3 linked regions of the Homo sapiens genome follow. The protein of the gene in region 2 purifies or fractionates together with the protein of the main gene of each other region. This does not show direct contact. Each region holds a gene or a part of one and is shown on either strand. Other genes may lie near its edges.

The links.
Region 1: the proteins of HNRNPM (region 2) and RALY fractionate together in Homo sapiens (co-fractionation; 2 studies listed by BioGRID). This does not show direct contact.
Region 3: the proteins of HNRNPM (region 2) and LRRC59 purify together in Homo sapiens (affinity purification with mass spectrometry; 2 studies listed by BioGRID, with this or other methods). This does not show direct contact.

Annotation. Positions count from the first base shown.
Region 1 is NC_000020.11:33,996,911-34,003,910, forward strand, and holds part of RALY (RNA-binding protein Raly), read left to right. Parts: intron 1-7,000. UniProt on the Homo sapiens protein: RNA-binding protein that acts as a transcriptional cofactor for cholesterol biosynthetic genes in the liver. Binds the lipid-responsive non-coding RNA LeXis and is required for LeXis-mediated effect on cholesterogenesis.
Region 2 is NC_000019.10:8,440,170-8,448,199, forward strand, and holds the start of HNRNPM (heterogeneous nuclear ribonucleoprotein M), read left to right. Parts: upstream 1-4,805; 5' UTR 4,806-4,829; coding exon 4,830-4,942; intron 4,943-8,030. UniProt on the Homo sapiens protein: Pre-mRNA binding protein in vivo, binds avidly to poly(G) and poly(U) RNA homopolymers in vitro. Involved in splicing.
Region 3 is NC_000017.11:50,394,524-50,402,148, forward strand, and holds the start of LRRC59 (leucine-rich repeat-containing protein 59), read right to left. Parts: upstream 3,001-7,625; 5' UTR 2,795-3,000; coding exon 2,690-2,794; intron 1,981-2,689; exon of another isoform or gene 1,884-1,980; intron 470-1,883; exon of another isoform or gene 466-469; coding exon 406-465; exon of another isoform or gene 401-405; intron 1-400.

The sequences.
Region 1 (7,000 bases), on a different chromosome or scaffold from region 2:
TTAGTGTCTTCTTTAGTCTCAGAGTGCATTGTAAATGCAAAATTATTAGTCCTCACCTGCAGCAGAGATGTGGCATGCAGCTCCAGGGCAGGAACCCAGGCCTCTCTGAGTAAGACCTACTTTTCTCCCCCTTAGGTTGATGTTCTGTATCACTGAAGCCTGTTTTGAATCTCTGCTGGCCCCCCAGTATCTGCAGAAGAGACCTTATACCCTGTTTTTTTTGGAGACGGAGTCTCACTCCGTCGCCCAGGCTGGATTGCGGTGGCACGATCTTGGCTCCCTGCAACCTCAACCTCCTGGGTTCAAGGGATCTCTTGCCTCAGCCTCCCGAGTAGCTGGGACTACAGGCATGCACCATCACGCCTGGGTAATTTTTGTATTTTTAGTACAGATAGGGTTTCACCACGTTGGCCAGGCTGGCTTCGAACTCCTGAACCTCAGGTGATCCTCCTGTCTTGGCCTTCCAAAGTGCTGGGATTACAGGCATGAGCCACCACGCCAGGCTATTACACCCTTAAAATAGAACCGAGATAACTCCCCACCCTCACCTTGTTTGCACCTGCCCTTCTGACAGTCCAGGGTTTGGGGATATTGGGCTGCAGTTATCAGGAATAACAGTGCAGTGACAGCAGCTTGGATCAAAACTACTCAGAATGATTAAGTAGATCACCTTTATGAAATGTTCCCTCTTTCTTCCCCCTTTTTCCATAGAGGCACACAGGAGGGATTAGCTTTTGGGTTCTTGGAGGATGTTTATGGATACTCACTGCTTGCAGTTGGTTAAGATGGAGTTAGATGCTGCATATAGCCTTTCAAAATGCCCTTTGACCGTTTTCTGTGTTGGTCCATTTAGGGGAGTGGGCTCTTCATGTTTATGAAGATGGTTGGAATATTGTCCTGATAACAACTGGGGGTTGGGAGAGGCAGTGTCTCAGAGATGGTTAATAGGGTAACAAACACATGATCATGTGTCTGGTCATGTCACACTCTCCTTAAAAATCTGATGGCCCCAACATTGCCTGCATATTAAAGTTCAAACAAATATGACCCATGAGGTCAGTGTGTTGAATTTATTGAATAGAATCTTGTAGTTGAGGGACCTTACAGTCATTTAGACCAGCCACCTGGCTGACATTTGAGTTGGTTACTTGTTGAGATTGTCTTTCTTTGGATACCTCATTTTTGGAAAGTTTTTCATTCACTGAAGAATTAATGAGCCTCTGTTAGACCTGGTGCTACGCTTAGGGATTTGGGTTTGTATAGCGTAGTGGGAAAGATAGGCAAGGAAACAGGCAGTGTGAGAAGTGTTGTCACAGGGACAGACACCAGGAGAGCACAGAAAAATGATGCCTAACCCAGCATTGGAAGGTCAGGGAAGGCTTTTTAGGAGGAGAAGTTGGTTAAGCCTAGCCCTCAAGAGAACAGACATAAGCCAGGAAAAGAAGAGATCTGGGGAGTCAGGGAAGAGGCAGAGATAAGACTGTTCTAGGTAGAAGGAACAGTAAGTTCAGAAATGGTGATAATAGGTTAAGACCATCCCGAAAGTACGTACTGTTACTATTCCCATTCTGTAGTTGAAGGAAACGGGCCAAGAGAGCTAAACAAATTTCTCAGGATTCTTGGGTGGAGCATAATGCTTGAGGTGGGTGGATATGGCCAGACAGGAGACTTTCAAGGTAGGCAGAGCAGAGGCCAAGTCAGGAAAGGGCCTTCTTGCCTGTGTTGAGGAGTTTGGACTTCATCCGGAGGTGAGGGGGCCATGATTCAATGTGCATTTTGGAAGGATATCTCTGGCTGCCTGTTCAGGAGCGGACTGGAGAGCTAGAACACTGTGGGCAGAGAGACCAGTTAGGAGGTTGGCAAGAGGTGATGGTGTTTCAAATGAAGGTTGTGGGAGAGCGTGTGCAAGAGTGTGTGCAGAAAAAAGATGGAATTGCTGGGCGTGGTGGCTCACGTTTGTAGTCCTAGCACTTTGGGAGGCTGAGGTGGGTGGATCACCTGAGGTCAGGAGTTTGAGACTAGCCTGGCCAACGTGGTGAAACCCCGTCTCTACTAAAAATAAAAAAAAAATTAGTCGGGTGTGGTGGCAGGCACCTGTAATCCCAGCTATGTGGGAGGCTAAGGCAGGAGAATCACTTGAACCTGGGAGGTGGAGGTTGCAGTGAGCTGAGATCGAACCACTGCACTCCAGCCTGGGTGTGAGACTCCATCTCAAAAAAAAAAAAAAAAAAGGAAAGAAAAAAGGTGGAATTGAGTGATGAGACAAAGATTATTGGTGTGGAGGGTAAGGAAGGAATCGGGATGACATCTGGTTTCTACCTGGTGCAGTTTTGTAAATGGGTGCTGTTTATTGAGGTGAGGACACAGGAGAAGAAGGAGCACGTAAGGGAGGGGGTAGGGTTTCTTATGCAGGGTCTCCTTACATATGCTTTCACTTACCTCTGGTTATGGATTCTAGTTCTTTGTGTCAGGTCTGAAAGGGAGAGAGTGAGAGTATGGCACAACTGGTCATGTTCCTGGCTAAACTGGATGATGCAAACATTAGTTTAGGAAGAGAGGAGATATTCAATCCTAGACATCCGGGTGTGGCACAGCCTGGAAACTGCTTACGTTAAGCCAAGAAAAGTTTACATTTTATCCAGGCTACATCCTTTGGCACTGGTCTTTTCGTGTACTAGTGTATTCCTAAGTCCCTCTCTAAGCCGAAGCCACTTCTCTGCTTACTCTCTGCTAGGCACTGGGAAAACAAAGATAAGTAAAACGTATCCTAAGGAGCTCATGATCCAGAAGGGCAGAAGTCTCAGTAGCTTGGATACAGCGGTGGCCTGGGGAGAGGGTGGATGGGGCAGGGCAGGGTAGGACAGGATGGAGAGGGACCCGGAAGGGTTTCTATTAGGGATAGGAGTCAGGAGACCCCACTGTGTGCTCCAGTCTTTTTCTCGGGTGGCACGTGTCTAGGTTTATTCATCTGAATAATGACTAGATGACCCATAAGGTCCCTTCTAGCAATTACATTTTATGATTCTAGGTGGTGGTTTAGATAATATATCTCTAGGAGAGGTATTTCTTTCTTCTTCTCCCCCTTCTTAGTTTGGCATTGGTGAGGGGATATAGTAGGGGTGGAGATAGCAAGGTTTTCACTTGAGTGTCTTGGTCTTATTCAATTTTGGCTTCATGTCTATATAGCTGGAAGGGAGAAAATGACAGCCGTAATGTTAACCTGCTTGTCCTACAACTTCCCCCTGGGTACTGTAAGGAAATTGTGCTCAGGGTGCAGCTCACAGACCCTTAGGAATAGAGACAGAGTGCAGTGGAATAAATAGGAAGTCTTGTCACTAGCCTGAGCATCGTTTGGTCAGTGTGTGGGCTGGACTAAGGTCCTTTCTTTTTATAGCCCTGTTTCCTCATAAAATCATCTGGGGGGGTCCCTGAAATTCTATAAAGGCCCAAAGAGTGGGGGTGGGGAGGTAGGGACAGAAAAAGGGTTGGAGGTCCCTGTCTCTCTCACTTCTCCCCTCTCTTCGAACGAATAAGTAGAAGCAGGTATCTGGCCAAGTATTAATGTTGGTCATCTTTTGTTTCCACAGCCTTGCCTTATTTCCTCAGTGTTAGTGTCTTCTGTCATTTCATAATGGCTTTCATGGTAATCAATGTCCTGTACCTCCTGGGAGGAAGGAAGGAAAGATGGGATATTGTCCCTGGGCTCTAGTCTCCATCTCCAGAAGAGCCATTTAAGACATCCACTGCCCCCTGTTCTCTATTCTGGGGTTGGGGTAGGGGGTTGTGGCTGAATACTTGGGTTTCTTAGAGGGTACATACTTGAGTTTCCTAGGGAGTGCTCTACTAACTAAAGTGCAAATCTGGCTATCTTCCCAACACACCAATGAGTTTGACTGGGGAAAATAGCAGTCAGTGGGCTTTTGTTGCTTGCCAAACCCATGTTAATTGTAATTATCTAATATTCTGTGGGATCTCTGTCTTCCTGTCTGTGAAACAAGGGAATTGGACTAGATAATCTTGAGTGATATTTCTACCTTTTTACAGTTTTGTGGAAGTGGCTTGAGAATTTATCTCTGGAAGGAGAAAGGGCTTTGCTAAAGTATTGAGAGTATCTCAGAGGGTTAAATTCTGGGTTCACAAAAGATACCTTTCAGTATATAAACAGATGGATATTGCTTTTTAGAGTGGACAGATTGCTGAAAAATTGCTTGTGAGATGAATTTATCAAATTGTATGCTGAGTTCCATTATAAACTTGGAGCTGTAGCCTCATGGGACAAACTTGGAGTCCAAGACTATAAAAAAATTACATTAAAATATGTAGCAAACTGTTTAAAATCACATAATAAAGGAAAAATAAAAAACATTTTAAGATTTTCACACAATGGTAATAATGGAAAAACACTAGACCAGAAACTTGCATTTCCTAAGAGCTTTAGCTTATGGAGTAGATGCCTCTACTGAGGTTACCTGGCCCTTGAAGTGCCATCTGTAGAGACTGAATAGCTCTGTTATTTGTCAAGGTAAGACTCATTGCTTTATTCCAAGTAAATATTCTCTTTTAGAATGCCAGGTTTGGAAGCTTAATGTTATTGGCCAGATTTTCTTCATTCCAGAGGCATTTATCTGGTATTTAGCTGTCTCCTGTTTATTTTATTAAGGATTTTAATAAGCTTAGTTAACGGTACTGCTTACATGGTGTCTCTTGATCTATTTGTCTAGTTTCCTTTGAAATTCTTTGTGTTAGTGAAAGCAAGCCCAGCAGTAGATTTAAAAGGGTCATTTCCATAACTTCATTTATCTAGATTTGGGTTTTTTTGGTAAGAGATATGACCACACTATACTGAGAAATCGAATGTTGTTTCCTTTTTTTTTGAGACGGAGTCTCGCTCTGTTGCTCAGGCTGGAGTGCAGTGGCATGATCTCCGCTCACTGCAAGCTCTGCCTCCCGGGTTCATGCCATTCTCCTGCCTCAGCCTCCTGAGTAGCTGGGACTGCAGGTGCCCACCACCACGCCCGGCTAATTTTTTTGTATTTTTAGTAGAGACGGGGTTTCACAGTGTTCGCCAGGATGGTCTCGATCTCCTGACCTGGTGATCTGCCCACCTCGGCCTCTCAAAGTGCTGGGATTACAGGCGTGAGCAGCCGCGCCTGACCACGTCGTTTCCTTTTTACCTGAAGCATTAATTTAAGGCTTTGGAATTTTGTTTTTGCGGATACCTGTAAGGTGGTACTGAGGAATGGTGCTGCTGCCAAAGTAATAATGAGGGCTGTGCGTGAATCAGTTGAGCACAAGAATAACTTCTCTTCAGACTTTAAAGATTCACCCTAATTGATTCTTACACCAATTAAAATCAACCCTTACTAAAATTAGGGTTCAGAGGAAGTTACTTAGTTGCCGTGGCATGATTATTTATGCTTGGGAGTCCCAACAGCCTTCCATCCCTAATCTCAACCATTCGTTCCAGGAATTTGGAGTACCTCCTATATGTTCTTCTTATGGAAAACATAAAAACCAACAAGACATAATTCCTGTCCACAAATTACTTTCAGTCTTGAGAGGAAGACAGATAAGTAAAGCAAATCCAGCCTGCCGCCCTGGCTCATATATTTGGATTGAGGGTTCAAACGGAAAATAACATAATTGGTGGCTGTATCAGTAGACAAGGAGACCAGTTTGATAATCTGACTTCCAGTGTGTAGACTTTATTTTTTTGGCATTCCCTTCTCTCCCTTCTGTTTTTTACAGATATTTATCCTCTGTTGCTAAGGTGTCCAACACCCAGTGTGTAAAGTCAAGAATATTAGAGTAGGGGACAACATTTCCTTTCAGGTTTAGGTGTCCAGATATCTGCATCTGGACACCCACACAGTTCTCTGGCTGGCTTCAGGAAGATTTGGTATTGTCTCGCTTCTTATGTAGAAATGAAGAAAATTAAGTTTCATGTTGAATTATTTTAAGTTTTATTATGCTCTATTTTGAAATAAAATAGCTCTATTTTGTATGCAGGTGGAATTATCTGAGGTGTGGTTTCTGGCATTTGATCAGTCTGTGATTTGATAATTGTGTTTATATTGTAGTTCGTGAAGCCCATTGCCACTGCCAGCCGCCTTTGAACACTTTGCAGCAAGGAGCCCTAGTAAATGGAAATGGTGGGCACATTGAGGCTCTCCTGGTTTTGAAGGGCTCTTCCCTCTTTCCTACCCTTCAGAGAGAAATATTACTTGGGATGCTGTGTTGTGCTCCCGATTTCTTCCAACAATTTAGCATTGCCTGTGGGGTCTGGAATAATAAGGCCATGTAAACTGGAGATGTCATCTTCTCTCTCTTTGAAGTTCCATTTTCTCATCTGTGAAGTGGGGTTAACACTCCATATCTTGCCTTCCTCACAATGGTATTGTGAGGAGCAAATTAGAACGTTGTAAAATCACATGAGACAATTTATATGTGAAGAATCCATCAGTCATTTGTCAGTGGTAATAGGTAAGTGGCAGAATTTTCCTTAAGAGGGGAGATCGATCTCTTTGTAGGGAGCAGGGAGAGTGATCTCAGCTGGTCTCTGGGATTGGGAAAAAGTGTGATGAAAGCATCTGGACAGGGGCAATGATGGAGCAAAAGACTGGAGGTGAACTGTTCAGCGGGAACAGTGAGTAAGTGTTCTCTAACCTCATACTGTAAGTCCTAGGTTAGGCATATGTTTACCTTTGGTAAATATGCCAAACAGTTTTTTTTTTTTTTTTTTTTTTTGAGACGGAGTCTCGCTCTGTCGCCCAGGCTGGAGTGCAGTGGCGGGATCTCGGCTCACTGCAAGCTCCGCCTCCCGGGTTCACGCCATTCTCCTGCCTCAGCCTCCCAAGTAGCTGGGACTACAGGCGCCCGCCACTACGCCTGGCTAATTTTTTGTATTTTTAGTAGAGACAGGGTTTCACCGTTTTAGCCGGGATGGTCTCGATCTCCTGACCTCGTGATCCGCCCGCCTCCGCCTCCCAAAGTGCTGGGA
Region 2 (8,030 bases):
CAATTTCCTCTTACTTTGCATCTGCCAGTCCACAGACCATGCTGGCCTCTGTTTTTCTTTTTTTGAGATGGGGTCTTGCTCTGTCACCCAGATTGGAGTGCAGAGGCACAATCACACAGCTCACTCCAGCCTCGACCTCCTGGGCTCAGGCAATCCTGTCTCAGCCTCCCTGGCAGCTGGGACAACAGGCATGCACCACTGCGCCTAGCCACTGTTAGTTTTTAGTTAAGTGTAGAGAGTCCAGCATGGGCCAGGCCTGGTGGCTGATGCCTGTAATCCCAGCATTTTGGGAGGCTTCGGCAGGAGGATCAGTTGAGCCTAGGAGTTTGAGACCAGCCTTGGCAACATAGTGAGACCCTGTCTTTACTAAATAAATAAATATATAAATATATATATATTAGCTGGGCATGGTGGCATGCACCTGTGGTCACAGTTACTCAGGAGGCTGAGGTGGGAGGATCCCTTGAATCCAGGAGTTCCAGGCTGCAGTGAGCTATAATTATACTTCTGTTGTCTATTCTAGGCAACAGGGCAAGACCCTGTCTCTAAAGCAAACAAACAATTTTTTAAAAATGGTGACAATATCCACGCTGACTTAGGGTGACTATAGATTAGGCATAGTTCCGAGTCTCTCCCTCCTTTGACTGTCACTTGTTAGGGAAGAAGTGGTTATTACCTACATTTTACAGGTGAGAAGACTGAGGCCCAGGGCAGGGAAGCCTTAATCTAAGGTCTCAGAGCTGTAGGAAGTGGAGCCGGGGTGACACCAGGACTCCTTTTGGAGGAAGACTCAGGAAAGATGCAGAATACGTGTTTTTTTTTTTTTTTTTTTTTTTTTTTGAAACAGAGTCTTACTCCATCACCCAGGTTGGAGAGCAGTGGCGTGATCTTGGTGATCTTGGCTTACTGCAACCTCTGCCTCCCGGGTTCAAGTGATTCTCTCTTGCCTCAGCCTCCCAAGTAGCTGGGACCACAGGCAGCTAAGTTTTGTATTTTTAGTAGAGATGAAGTCTTGTCATGTTGACCAGGCTGGTCTCGAACTCCTGACCTCAGGTGATTCACCTACCTCGGCCCCCTAAAGTGCTGGGATTACAGGCGTGAGCCACCGAGCCTGGCCCAGAATGCAGTTAATCTAATAACAACACCTACTTCTTCAGCGCTTTCTGCCTGCCGATTCTTTTATATTTAAAGGCTCTTGGCATCTGTCTGCTTTTAAAGCTCAGGGCAACCCTGAAAGGTGAGTTCTGGTGCCTTTCTTTCTTTCTCTCTCTCTCTCTCTCTCTTTCTTTTCTTTCTTTCTTTCGACGGAGTCTCGCCCTGTTGCCCAGGCTAGAGCGCAGTGGCACTATCTCTGCTCACTGCAACCTCCACCTCCCGAGTTCAAGCAATTATCCTGTCTCAGCCTCCTGAGTAGCTGGGACTACAGGCGCCAACCATCATGCCTGGCTAATTTCTGTATTTTTAGTACAGATGGGGTTTCGCCATATTGGCCAGGCTGGTATTGAACTCCTGACCTCAAATGATCCACCTGACTCGGCCTCTCAAACTGCTAGGATTACAGGCGTGAGCCACCGTGCCCAGCCTGGTGCATTGCATTTCTTATTATCCATATTTTCAGTTAAGCAAACTGAGCCTCAGAGTGGAGGAGCTGATTGCTCAAGGTCTGTTTTCCATATGAATCCCTGCCTGGTATGTAGCTCACTCACAAAGGAAGAAAAACTTTCTGCCTGGACTGGAAGGGCAAGGAGAAGCCTGTGTGGCCATGGGAGTGGAGGAAACAGCTAAGCACAAAGGCCCAGAGGCTGGAAACTGCTTAGCCTGTAGGAAGAGCAGCAGGGAGGAACCCCAGGGCTGGAGCAGTGTGATTGAGGGGCAGGTGGCTGGAGAGATGGGCAGGGCCTCCTAGGCATGGGGTGACTGACGCACCAGTGGTCTGCAAAAACGGAGCATCACACCAGTGCGCATGAGCTCTCCTGCCCCTTGGGGGGGCCTTCCTTGCTCCTGCAGCTGAACTCCCTACACAGCCTGACACCCATCTTTCCTCAGGCCAACTTTGGCCTGTGGTGCCCCAGGAGTTGATGTACAGATGCCTCAGGACATGCCATGAGGAAGAGAGAGACGAGATGGGGTGACTCATGCCTGAAATCCCAGCACTTTAGGAGGCCAAGGCAGGAGGATTGCTTGAAGGCTGGGAGTTAGAGACCAGCCTGGCCAACATAGCAAGACCCTGTCTCTACAAAAAGAGAAAGAAACAGAGAGAGAGAGAAGGAAAAGTGTTTTCTTTGCAAATCTATTCTAATACTTTCATAGAGAAGAGTTTTAGTTTGGTGTTAACCTGTCTTTAATAATCCTCTAAGGACCAGCACAGTGGCTCACGCTTATAATCCCAGCACTGTGGGAGGCCAAGGCTGTAGGATCCCTTGAGCTCAGGAGTTCGAGACCATCCTGGGAAAAACGGCAAGACCCTATCTGTACCAAAAAATAAAAATAAAAAATTAGCCAAGTGCAGCGGCGTGCACCTACAGTCCCAGCTACTTGACAGGCTAAGCAGGGGAGGATCGCTTGAGTTCAGGAGTTCAAGGTTGCAGTGAGCTATCATTTACAAAGGTAGATTGAAATATTATTGATAGGCTGGGCACGGTGACTCACACCTGTAATCCCAGCACTTTGGGAGGCTGAGGTGGGCAGATCACCTGAGGTCAGGAGTTTGAGACTAGTTTGGCCAGCATGGCAAAACCCCATCTCTACTAAAAAATACAAAACTTAGCCAGGCGTCGTGGTGTGCACCTGTAATCCCAGATACTTGGAAAGCTGATGCAGAAGAATCGCTTGAAATCAGGAGGCGGAGGTTGCAGTGAGCTGAGATGGTGCCACTGCACTCCAGCCTCTGTGACAGAGCAAGACTGTCTCCAAAAAAAGAAAAAAATATATTATTGATAATCGCTGCATTGAAGGCCAGGCGCAGTGGTTTACGCCTACAATCGCAGCACTTTGGGAGCCTGAGGCAGGCGGATCACGAGGTCAGGAGTTCGAGACCAGCCTGACCAATATGATGAAACCTTGTCTCTACTAAAAATACAAAAGTTAGCCGGGCGTGGTGGCATGCACCTGTAATCCCAGCTACTCGGGAGGCTGAGACAGGAGAATCGCTTGAACCCAGGAGGCGGAGGTTGCAGCGAGCCGAGATGGCGCCATTGCACTCCAGTCTGGGCAACAAGAGCGAAACTCCGTCTCAAAAAGATAATCGCTGCATCTTACTGCCCAAGTTGCCACAAGCACACGTAACATCTGATGGTGCCAATTCGACTGTCTGCACTTGGAAAATGGCACATTGGAGGCTGCACAGCACCATAAAACTGATGCCACGAATGCACACAAAAATAAGACCATACAGCATTATGCCTAGTACAGAATACACCCTGAATTCTGTCACAGTTCACTTTATGCAACATTGCAAGAGTCCTCTCGCTCTTTATTATTATTTTTAATTTTTTTGAGATGGGGTCTCACTCTGTGACCAGGCTGGAGTGCAGTGGCCCGATCTTGGCTCACTGCAACCTCCTCCTCCTGGGTTGAAGCGATTCTCCTGCCTCAGGCTCCCCAGTAGCTGGGATTATGGGCGCCTGCCACCACACCCGGCTAATTTTTGTATTTTTAGTAGAGACAGGGTTTCATCATGTTGGCCAGGATGGTCTGATCTCTTGACCTCGTGATCCACCCGCCTTGGCCTCTCAAAGTGGTAGGATTACAGGCGTGAGCTGCCGCGCCCAGCCATTAATTTTTTTTTTAATTTTGTTTTTAACTTTTAGGTTTGGGGGTAAATGTGAAGGTTTGTTAAATAGGTAAACACTTGTCATGGAGGTTTGTTGTACAGATTATTTCATCACCCAGGTATTAAGCCCAGTACTCAATACTTATCTTTTTGTTTTTTGAGATGGAGTCTCAGTCTATCTCCCAGGCTGCGGTGCAGTGGCGTGATCTCGGCTCACTGCAACCTCCGGCTCCTGGGTTCAAGCGATTCTCCTGCTTCAGCCTCCCGAGTAGCTGGGATTACAGGCGCCCGCCACCACGTCCAGCTAATTTTTTTATTTTTAGTAGAGACGCGGTTTCACCATGTTGGCCAGTCTGGTCTCGAACTCCTGACCTCAGGTGATCCGCCGCCTCGGCCTCCCATACCCAAAGTGCTGGGATTACAGGAGTGAGCCATCGCGCCTGGCCCCATTATTAGTGAATTTTAACAGTTTTCCGTTTCTTCTGGACGAACTGTTTGCAATTATAATGCGAATTACGGATAATACTCTGATATTATTCCATGCCGTTCCGTTGTTGCCTACAAAGTTCGCGCTGGAGAACCGCGCAATTGCGTTACAAAAAGAAAAAAATCACACAAAAAGACACAATGTTTTAAGAAAGTTTACGAATCGTGTGCCGGACCGCGGGTTGAACAAGCTTCATCTAAAACTTCCAGGAATCTCTAGACAGGATCATTGCTTCCCCTCTGCTCCAGCTCTGGTTACAGAAAGCTGAGAGTGACTAGGTCTAGGTGTTTGTGTGGGGTGGGGTGGGGAGATGCCTCCTCTATCGGACTCAGAGGACGCGCGCCGGGAACAGCCAGTCGGTGCCTAACGCGAGTGTATCTCGAGAGAGAAGCGATCAACAGCTGCCGGTCTGCGCCTGCGCGCGGCGGGGGCGTGGCCCGGGGCGAGTGGGGCCAAGGAGGCAGCCGGGAGCGGCGGGCGCAGGTGTTACTGGTTGCGTCGGGTCACGTGGGCGCGCAGGCGCAGCGCGGTGCAGCCCGTTCGCTCACACAAAGCCCAGACGCGGAGAAAATGGCGGCAGGGGTCGAAGCGGCGGCGGAGGTGGCGGCGACGGAGATCAAAATGGAGGAAGAGAGCGGCGCGCCCGGCGTGCCGAGCGGCAACGGGGCTCCGGGCCCTAAGGGGTGAGTATCCCACGGTCCTTTGCCACGGGTAAGGGTTCCTCTCCGCGGCCGACGCGGGCGGCGGCTCCGTTAGGTCTGTTGGCGGCCTAGCCCCGGCGCGGCCTCGGCCCCGGCTGTTCCCGTACCGCCTGCTCAGGGTAGCGGCGTCTAGGGCCGTGAGCGGGGAGCCGGGGGAGCCTCCAGAATCGTCCCCTACACCGGGCCTCGAGCCTCGCCACCCTCAGTCCCTCCAGGCCGGGGCCAACCCCGTAGTCGAGGCCTCAGGCCCAGCTGCTGCGCATGGGGGTTGATGGCGCGGGCCCGGACCGGAGAGCCTCCGAGGCCTACCCGACCGCTCCCCGGGAGGGTGACCTCGGGGGCCGGGTTTCAGCCCCCCGTCCCCTCTCCTCCCGGGGTCTGTTTTCTGATCCGTAACGTGGGGGGAGGAGAGAGGGTGCGCGCCCGGGAGGCCTCGCGCGCAGTCAGCCCGAGTCAACGGTAACCGAGCGAGGGAAGCGTCAGGAAGGGCCGCGAAGCCGGGTCGGGGGGCTCCCCTCCTGCCCCGCCCCTTAGTCCCCGCGCGCCGACCGCGCTCCGCGGGAAGTGCCTCCCTCGGAACCGCCCCTCGCCCCACGCTCTGGCCCTGGCTCAAGTCCCTCGCCGTTTCCCGCTCCTCCTCCCCGGGTGCGCCGCAGGTATTAGTGGAGAGATGGGATCTGCTGCTTAGCGTTCACCCTCGGAAGCAGACAGATACGAAGTCGGGGGAGGAATCCCCTTTTTCCCGTGTTTCGGGGAAGCTGTTCTGTCAGGAGGCGGGTTCATTTACTTCCAGACTTCATCAGCTTTTCGAGTCCTGCTTGGGGCTCTTTGACTCCTTGGCTTTTAAAAGTTTCTTTAAAGGAGGAAGCATCGACTTGTGCCCCGGTGAAACTCATTCATTCTGATTACAGACACTTAAGAGAGACAGAGAGGTTTTGGCTCCAAGATCAGCGGCCGGGAAGGAAGGGGAAGCCTGGGTACACATTGAATTTCCCAGACATTTATTTCATTGTGGTAAAATAGACATAACGTAGACTTTGCCATTTTAACCATTTTTTAAGCGTATAATTCAGTGGCATTGAGTATACTGACTCAGTGTGCTGTAACCGTCACTGCTTCATGTCCAGAACTTTTTCATCATCGGAAACAGAAAGTGTAGCTATTAAATACTAACTCCCTCCGTTTTCTTTCCTTTCTGTCTGTGACTTTGCCTTCCTCATATTGTAATGTGTGAAGCTTAGTTTATGGAGATTAAAAGTGAATGCGGTTGAGCACTTATATATTTAATTTTTTTCTTTGAGACAGGGTCTCCCTCTGTTACCCAAGCTGGGATGCAGTGGCACGATCACAGATCACTGCAGCCTCGAACTCCTGGGCTCAATCGATCCTTCCATCTCAGCCTCCTGAGTAGCTGGGATCACAGGCGCGGCACCACCATGCCCGGCTAATTTTTTGAAGAGAGGAGGTCTCCGGGTGTTGCCCAGGCTGGTCTGAAACTCCTGGGTTCAAGCCATCCTCCTGCCTAGGCCTTCCAAAGTGCTGAAGTTACAGGCATGAGCTACTGCGCCCTGCCTAGTTGAGCGCTTAGGTTAAGAACGTTCCCTAAGTGCTAGCTATATTGGTAGATAATAAATCCGGAGAAAATTCCAGATTCTTTCCCTCCTTAAGTAGGGAGAAATAAAATACCATGGTTACTGGCCCTTAGAAATGAGAAAAACTTCCTCTATTCCCAGCATTTTACTATTGAAAACTCTGGGAAGGAATGTGTTAATTTTGACTTTTTCAGCGTCTATCTACGGAAGCTGGTAGGATTTCTGAGGGTGGTATTTGGAGGGCTTTAAGATAAATTTATTTACCGTATGCAGGAAGGAGTGCTGGTAGAACCTTGCTAGATGATAGGGTAAATTAATAGATTACAAATTTTCCCTTTTCCCCTGTCCATTTTCAAATAGTCATTTTGTGACTGAGTCATTTTACAAATACATGTGGACTGTTGGAACCTGAAAATTGTAGAATAAAATAGCCGTTGTGAGAAAGAGGCTCAAAGTCTCAAAGTCTAGTACTAGCTTCATAGAGGATAGTTTAGGAAGCTGGCAACACTTGGATATTTTTGATAGGGCCTGTGGAAAACTTTTTTTTTTTTTTTTCATTACAAGTCTTAAGGAAATCTCTTTAGAAGCCTATACTTTTGCACTCCATGCAGAGTGGAGAGGCCATTAACATATTTGTATGTTATGTATGTTATGTAATTACCATAACATAAGGTAATTATGCTGTGATAGAAGTTAGTGGAGTTGCTTGGTAGAAAGAATGGAGGAGGTGACCTCCGCCACCTGCTGGGGGCAGGGACCTGTTCCTCCATGACAGGAAGACGTGTGGAAGTGGAGGAGAAGAAGATGGTTGGGGAGGGGCAGGGAAGAGAGTATCCAAAGAGCAGAGATTTGAGTGTATGCTTTATCGAGAACTGAAGTTGTGCTGGGTGTAGTGGCTCACACCTGTAATCCCAGCACTTTGGGAGGCTGAGGTGAGAGGACTATTTGAGCTCAGGAGTTCAAGACCAGCCTGGGCAACATGGTGAAACCCTGTCTCTACCAAAAAAAAGAAAAAACAAAACAGGCTGGGCCCGGCGGCTCACGCCTGTAATCTCAGCACTTTGGGAGGCCGAGGCGGGCAGATCACGAGGTCAGGAGATAGAGACCATCCTGGCTAACACGGTGAAACCCCGTCTCTACTAAAAATACAAAAAATTAGCCGGGCGTGGTGCCGGGCTCCTGTAGTCTCAGCCACTGGGGAGGCTGAGGCAGGAGAATGGCGTGAACCTGGGAGGCAGAGCTTGCAGTGAGCCGAGATTGGGCCACTGCACTCCAGCCTGGGCGACAGAGCGATACTCCTTCTTCAAACAAACAAACAAACAAGAACACTGAAGTTGCTATAGAGTTTTAAGGTTGGAGCACTGGCAGCCAGCTGATGGGCAGTGAATTTGGATTTTTATCTTGAAAGCCTTTGAGAGACAGGAGAAAAATAGAAACTTGGTTCTTTGGAATTCTTTCTCTACCAGGAGTGGAGTGTG
Region 3 (7,625 bases), on a different chromosome or scaffold from region 2:
GAAGCTGTTCACAGCTTTCTCCCTGGAACGCAGAGCAACTTACAAAATGGTCTCTAGCATCCTCTATGCAGTAGGGAGGTAAACTATTTTTCAGAGGAATAAAATAATGTAGAAAAAAGATGAGCCCAGTAAGTTACTCAGCACCCTGTTGAGTTTAGTTTTCTGTGGACTGACTTTACCACTGTTCTGAAGAATGAGGCCTCCATCTCAATTCCTTTCCCACTGAGACCAACCACTCCATTCCACTGTGCCTCCCCTACACACTCAGATTTAGCTATAGCCTGCCTGTAGGCCTATCCTGAAATTACACCTTATGACACCCTCCCACCCCCCTCTCAACCCCCGAAACAGGAAGGAGATGCATCCAAGGCACCAGAAGGAGTCACGGCTGCATGCCAATCTTACCGGTAGAGTAGTCAGTTTATTACAAGACAGATCCAGGATGGTGGCCTTTGGAAGGGCAGCCTAGGTAAAAGAGGATGAGAAAAACATGTCAGACCAACATCTGGAACAATTCACTGACATATGTTAATGAAGCATTTTCCAGAGAATGTTCCCATGATTAGGAAAGGCCTTTTAAAATGGCAGTAAAGAGTAATGTTCCTGGGAATAAGAGGAAAAATAAGCCAGTCAACCATGATCTAAGGAAGAATGCAAAGAGAAGGGATGTGGCTGTACAACCTCCAAGAAGGTAAACCTTAGGCGAGGCACAGGGACTCACACCTGTAGTCTCATAGTCTCAGCTACTCAGAAAGCTGAGACAGGAGGATCGCTTGAGCCCAGGAGTTCAGGAGTTTGAGGCCGGCCTGCACAACACAGTGAGACCCCATCTCAAAAAAAAAAAAAAAGAAAGGAAGGCAGGCAGGCAGGCAGGCAAGCAAAATTTAGATTCTTAGACATTATTCCTAGCACTTTAAAAATAAATATTACCCAGCGTCCCTCTTATTAGGTTTCAGGGCAGGGACAGTGTCTAATAAAGCTTTGCAATTTCCATATTCCCCAGTTCAGGCCCTTCCTCAGAACAGGTACTCAATATCCATACATGTTGCCTGAATCATGACTGATCGAGTAAGTAGCGGAGTGAATGACAGAGTGAAAAAACAAGGCCCTGCCGGGTGCGGTGGCTCACGCCTGTAATCCCACCACTTTGGGAGGCTGAGGCAGGCAATCACCTGAAGTCAGGAGTTCGAGACCAGCCTGACCAACACGGAGAAACCCTGTCTCTACTAAAAATAGAAAATTAGCCAGGCATGGTGGCACACGCTTGTAATCCCAGCTACTCGGGAGGCTGAGGCAGGAGAATCGCTTGAACCCGGGAGGCAGAGGTTTCAGTGAGCCGAGATCACTCCTGGGCAACAACAGCAAAACTCCATCATCCAAAAAAAAAAAAGGCCCTCACAGCCCATCTCTATTTTCCCATGGTGTCCAGGCTGGACAAGCTCAGCAAAACTTTCTCCCTAAGGTTAATGCTGGACTGTTCAGATGCCTGGAGTATATGGTTTCAGAGAGCAGTCCTAGGGCAGGGTGAAATAAGGCTGGCCATCTATCTTCCTGGGGTAGAAAAGGAGGCATATATTCAGTTAAGGATCCTCTGGCAACCTGCACTTTCTGTCACAAAGTCGTAAAAGTGAAGTTTGACCACCTAAAAAAGTTTTAAATACTACAGCGGGAAAAACACAACAACAGCTACAAGTATCAGTATTTGCTCCTTCCAAGCATTTTCCATTACAATGGTATTTAACCTCCCAATAAGCGTATGAGATGGAAACTATTATCACCATTGTATAGATGAGGAGATCTAGGCATAAAGGCTAACTAGCTTGCCAAGGGCACTCGGCTATTAAGCAATGGAGCTGGGAGGAGCTAGGAACCCGGTTCTAACCACTGTAATACCCGTCCACGGTGGAAGAAAGACTGGGCCCAGCGCCCAAGGCAAATGTAATTTATCAACGGCAGAAAGCAAAGTGTGGGTCACCCAAAGTGAGTCTAGTAGGGCGTTGGCGCGGGTGGGAGGGGGAACGGAGTGGGAAAAGGAGGGATGTGGGAACTAGCTCCACGCTGACAAAACTAGATGCCTGCTATCTCTCTGGAGCTGTAAGCTTCAGTTTACAGGGGAAAGGTTGGGGGAGAGAGGGGCGAAAGGGACTCCCGCCAGTTTCAGCGGAATTCAGATGACAGTTTACCAGCCAAGCTGGGGGGAGACTTTACTTTCTTCGAGTTAGGCTGCCTCAGGGCTCGGGCAGCCAGCTGGAATTGCCAGCTTCCTAGAAGAGCCAGGTTCTGGGCCACACCCAGGTCTACCAGGAGGCCTACTCCCCTGGAACAAGTCACTCATTCATTCTCGAATACATCCAGTAACTGCTCCGTGTGCTCCTACTCAGAGTCGGGCACGGAGGTGGGCGCTGTGAAAGCCCCGCAAAGGTGACAGATTCGCTTCTTAGCCTGTAAAAAGCCTAGGGCCAGAGAAGCAGATCTTCCCTATGTTCTGGAACTGCGCCAAAGTGACACGTGTACATCCCGGGAAGAACCTTGGGCTGGACGCGGCCTCCTAGGGGACTTAGTCCCACCACCCCGCTTCTTTTTAAAGAAAAGGAAACTGATGCTTTTAGAGAAGAGGAAAGTAAGTGGCCCACGTAGGGGCCAGCGCCCGGCGAAGGTGGGCGCCTGGGCCTCGCGGGACGATACTGACCAGCTCCTTCACCGGGACCTCATTCAGGTCGCTGAGGCTCAGGTCCAGTTCGTTGCCGTCCAGCTTGTCGCGGAGGTTCCCGCCCTTGCTACCGGCCTTGGTCATGGTAACGCCGGCTGAGCGGGCCCCGGCTCCGGGGTTCCGGCGGGTGAAAGGAGCTGAAATGTCGCTTGTCAGTTCAGCGGCCCCCCACCCAAACGACGACGCCTGAGCCCTCCGTCGCCGCCGATGCGAGACCGCCTCCGCCCGCTGGCCGCACTCCGAGCCTCGCGCCTAGCTCCCACCGGTGCCGCGACGACGACCACTTCCGTGTCCACGTCACCTTCCGCGACCACTGAGATGGGCTGGGCCAGAGCGGCCCGAGCGTGTGCGGGCACGCCCCCTGGTGCCCAGGGTGATGCACTGCACGTCGCCGCCGCCGGAGGGGTGGGGTTGGAGGCTGCGAGCTCGGTTCACGTTCACCCGTGGCCCGCGGGCATTATTGCTGGCAGTGCCACGAGGCGAAAGGGCACGGACTGGGCGCCAGAAGACTGGGTTGACATCCAATACTGACCTCATCAGATCACCCCAATCCCCCTGATTAGGAGCAGAAGCTGGGTGTCCTCTAAAACTGCTCCCTGTCCTCTACTTAACCCCCGAATAACCATCATGGGGAAAACTCTTCTTCCTGAATTTCTCCTCTCTCCTCCCCACTCACTGCCTCAGTGCTTGTCTCTGTCCTTCCATCCACTTTCACCCAGCTCCCCGGTGATCTTTCTAAAAATCTGGCCAAGTCTCTCCCCTACGTAAAACCCTTCAAACTTGCAGCTACCTCTAGGATACGGACCACTTTCCTTTGGAAGCTGGGTCCTGCCTGCTTTCGCAGCTTCCTCACACGCTCCAGTCCCTGCCTGGCCTAGATGCTGTGTAGATTTCCAGGAGGTGGCTCCCACGTCTGGCCCTCCCCAGCGATGGCCCTCCCTCCCCCCCACTCACCTCTGTCTAGCTAATTCCTTAGTCCTTCAGGAAATCTCCCCTGAACACCGTGAATGCCAGACTGAGTTAGCGCCCCCCCCAACCAACTTAGGTCCCTGTTTGCTACTTTATCATCAGAGACAGTAGAGCTTGATGGCCAAGTGGGACCTCTGGCACTAATACCTATCCACTGGGTATTCATCCTGGCTCTGCCACTTGCTACTTATAAAACCGTAGACAATCACCAGGCTTCAGTCTTATCTATGAATCAATCTATGAGACATGTAGCTAACAGAGGTTGGGGAGAACTGAAGGAGTAAAACACACCAAGAGCTTACAGCAGTCACTGGCACTTAGTAAGTACCCAATAAATATTAGCTACAATTCATGATCCACCTTGTATTATACTCATCTTTATGTGTCTGTCCTTCATTCTGGACTGTGAGGACAGGGATTTTTGTCTTAATCATCTTCGTATGCCCAGAGTTGGCATACCCTGATGCAGGGTAGCTACTCATTCAGATGTCTGTTGAATAAATGAATAGATGGATGGATGAATGAATGAATGAATGAAGGAAGGAAGCACTTTACCCACTCCAAACCTCAGTTTACTCATTTTGAAATAGGGATATTAAAGCTTATCTCAGAGGGGCCGAGCAGGATAGCTCACACCTGTAATCCCAATACTTGGGAGGCCAAGATGAGAGGATTATTTGAGGCTAGGAGTTCAAAACCAGTCTGGGCAACATAGCAAGACCCCATCTCTAAAAAAATAAAAAATAAAAAATCTTGTCTCAGAGGGAAACTATGAACACCAAATAAAGTAAGTGCAATTGTTACGGGGGGTGGGTGGCAGGGGTCCTTGTTCTTAGAACTCCCAAGATGGTGGCGGGCCACTTCCAAGATGGCGGCAAGCCTCTTGTTCTCTGACCTGGGTTTCTTGGCCTCACGCATTCCAAGGAATGGAATCTTGGGCCATGCAATGAGTGTTATAGCTCTATTCAGCTCAATTAGGACAAATCCAGGCACTTAGCCACGCAGGAACAATGGCAAGCCTTTAGCCTGATCCAGAGCAGCAATGGGCGCCTCACTGGATCGGGAGCCCAGCAGACACCCTGCCAGATCCAGAGGGGTGGAAGTCAGCAGCGGGTCTGCGACAGCAGCAAACAGCAGTAGTGGACGGTAAGGAAAAGCTCAGCTCAAGCCGTAACAAACACGGACCAGAAAAGTGTGCAGTTGCAAGATTTAATAGAGTGAAAACAGAGCTCCCATAAAATGGCAGGGGACCCAAAGGGGGTTGCTGTTGCCGGCTCGAATGCCTGGGTTTATATCCCGATCATTGTCCCTCCTCCTGTGCTCTCAGGCGATAGATGATTGGCTATTTCTTTACCTCCTGTTTTTGCTTAATTAGCATTTCAGTGAGCTCTCTTTACTACCTGATTGATCAGGTGCGAGCTAAGTTGCAAGCCCCATGTTTAAAGGTGGATGCGGTCACCTTCCCAGCTAGGCTTAGGGATTCTTAGTTGGCTTAGGAAATCCAGCTAGTCCTGTCTCTCAGTGCCCCCCTCAACAGGAAAACCCAAGTGCTGTTGGGGAGGTTGGCCGATGACCGCTCTAACTGCTTCCTGCTAAATTGGGGCATAGTAGGGGTTGTGCAGTTGAGATTTCCTCGGGAGGGTTGCTTTTGATGTCACCAACATCACAGCATGGGCTAGCAGACTGGTCCAGGGGTCCACGGTAGATCTTAGTCATGGACCGCATCTGGGGCTCCATTTAAAGAACCATTTGTAGTTTTACAGCTTCGATTCTGGAACAGACAAACTTAACAAGGAGGTTAAAGATACAGGGATTGAAATGTATGGCCTGTAGTGTAGGGGATTATTTCTTTGGCACACTTCACAGGCCCTGACTATCTACTTGATAGTTTTGAAAAGGCCTGTCTAGTAAATAATAATTTGGCCATCTGATGGGTGCTATCAATGCCTAAGTGAAAGGTTTGGTGAAGGGTTTTAAGCAATTTCCATTGGTTAGCTGCAGGCAAAAGTATTTTTCCTTCTCCAGTGGCTAGTCATCCTGAGGGGAGGAAACTATGTCCTCGTCAGGTTCCCCATTCTATTTCTCCTGCTGAGTACTGGGGCTTGGTTTCCTGGAGGGGATTACCCCATACTAGGGGTTCTTCTATAAGCATTTCTAATGGAGGGTCCCGCCTTGCGGCTCTTTTGGCTTCAATATCCACTTGGCGGTTCCCTTCTATTTCTTCTTTCCTTTCCTTTCCTTTCTGATGACCCCGGTAGTGTAAGACTGCCACCTCTTTAGGTGTCTATACAGCCAATAATAATCTCCTGATGGCTTCCTGATGTTTGATAGGTGTTCCCTTGGAAGTTAGGAATTCACTTTCTCTCCATATTGCTGCATGGGCACGGAGGACTAGGTAAGCATACTTTGAGTCTGTATATATATTTACCCTTTTCCCTTCTCCTAATTCTAGTGTATAATGGCCCCTGCTTTTGCTAGAATGTCTCTCCCTAACAAGGGAGTGGGGCTTTCAGGCATAATTAGAAAAGCATGTGAAAAGAGTAAGTTCCCCAGTCACACCTTAGTGGCTGGGAGAAGTATCTAGTGACTGGCTGTCCTAGGACCCCTCGGATAGTGACAGATCTGGAGGACAGTTGTCCGGGACAGGAGAGTAAGACTGAGAAGGCCACGCCAGTTTCCAGGAGACAGTTAACCTCCTGGCCCTCAATGGTCAAGCATACCCAGGGCTCTGTGAGGGTGATGGCATGGGCTGGCGCTTGCCTCAGGCACCCTCAGTCCTGCTGCTGGATCATCTGGTCAGTGGCTTCTGACTCAGAGGACCTTCGTCCCATGGGGCAGTGGGCCTTCCAGTGATTCCCTTGACATAAGGGGCATCGACAAGGGGTGGCTTATTTCTATTTGGACAATCTTTTTTTTTTTTTTTTTTTTTTTTGAGACAGAGTCTCACTCTTTTGCCTAGGCTGGAGTGCAGTGGCGTGATCTCGGCCCACTGCAAGCTCCGCCTCCTGGGTTCACGCCATTCTCTTGCCTCAGCCTCCTGAGTAGCTGGGACTACAGGCACCCACCACCGCGCCCAGCTAATTTTTTGTATTTTTAGTAGAGATGGAGTTTCACCGTGTTAGCCAGGATGGTCTCGATCTCCTGACCTCGTGATCTGCCCGCCTCGGCCTCCCAAAGTGCTGGGATTACAGGCGTGAGCCACCGCGCCCGGCCTTGGACAATCTTTTTTAAAGTGTCCTTGCAGGCCGCACTGGAAGCAAGCCCTATTAGGCATTCGATTTGCTCAGCCTTTCCATGTTCCAGAGCCTCCAAGGTCCGCTTGCCTGAGGACCATGACTAAAGCGGTGGCCTTTTTCTTATCTCATTTGTCCTGTTCTGCCTGTTCCTCCTTATCTCTATTATAAAAAAACCGAAGTTGCCAAGTTCAATAGGGTTTCTAAATTTTGCTCCGGGCCTAAGGTGGACTTCCGAAGTTTTTTTTTTAATGTCTGCAGCTGACTGAGTGATAAACTTATCAAGATTAGTTGGCCTTCAATAGAATCAGGTGACAGAGAGGTATGCTTCCTCAATGCCTCCCTTAGTCTCTCCAGAAAGGCAGTAGGATTTTCTTCCTTTCCCTGTGTTATGGTGGACATCACTGAATAATTCATAGGCTTCTTCCTAGTTTCCTTAGTCCTTCTATCTAGCACGCCAGTTAGTAAATGTCTGTGGCACCAATCTCTATGTTGTGATTCTGCATCCCAATGAGGGTCTACACTGGGAACTGCCTGCTGGCCTGTGGGAAATCGTTCTCTTTCCTCTGTTGTCATCCTATCATTGACCTGACTGAGATACCAGATATCGCCAAACTCTCGGGCTGCAGTTATGGCGGCACTTCTCTCATTTGTGGTTAGTGTCCGATCTAGCGGTAACATTATATCTCTCCATGTCAGAACAAAGGATTGTC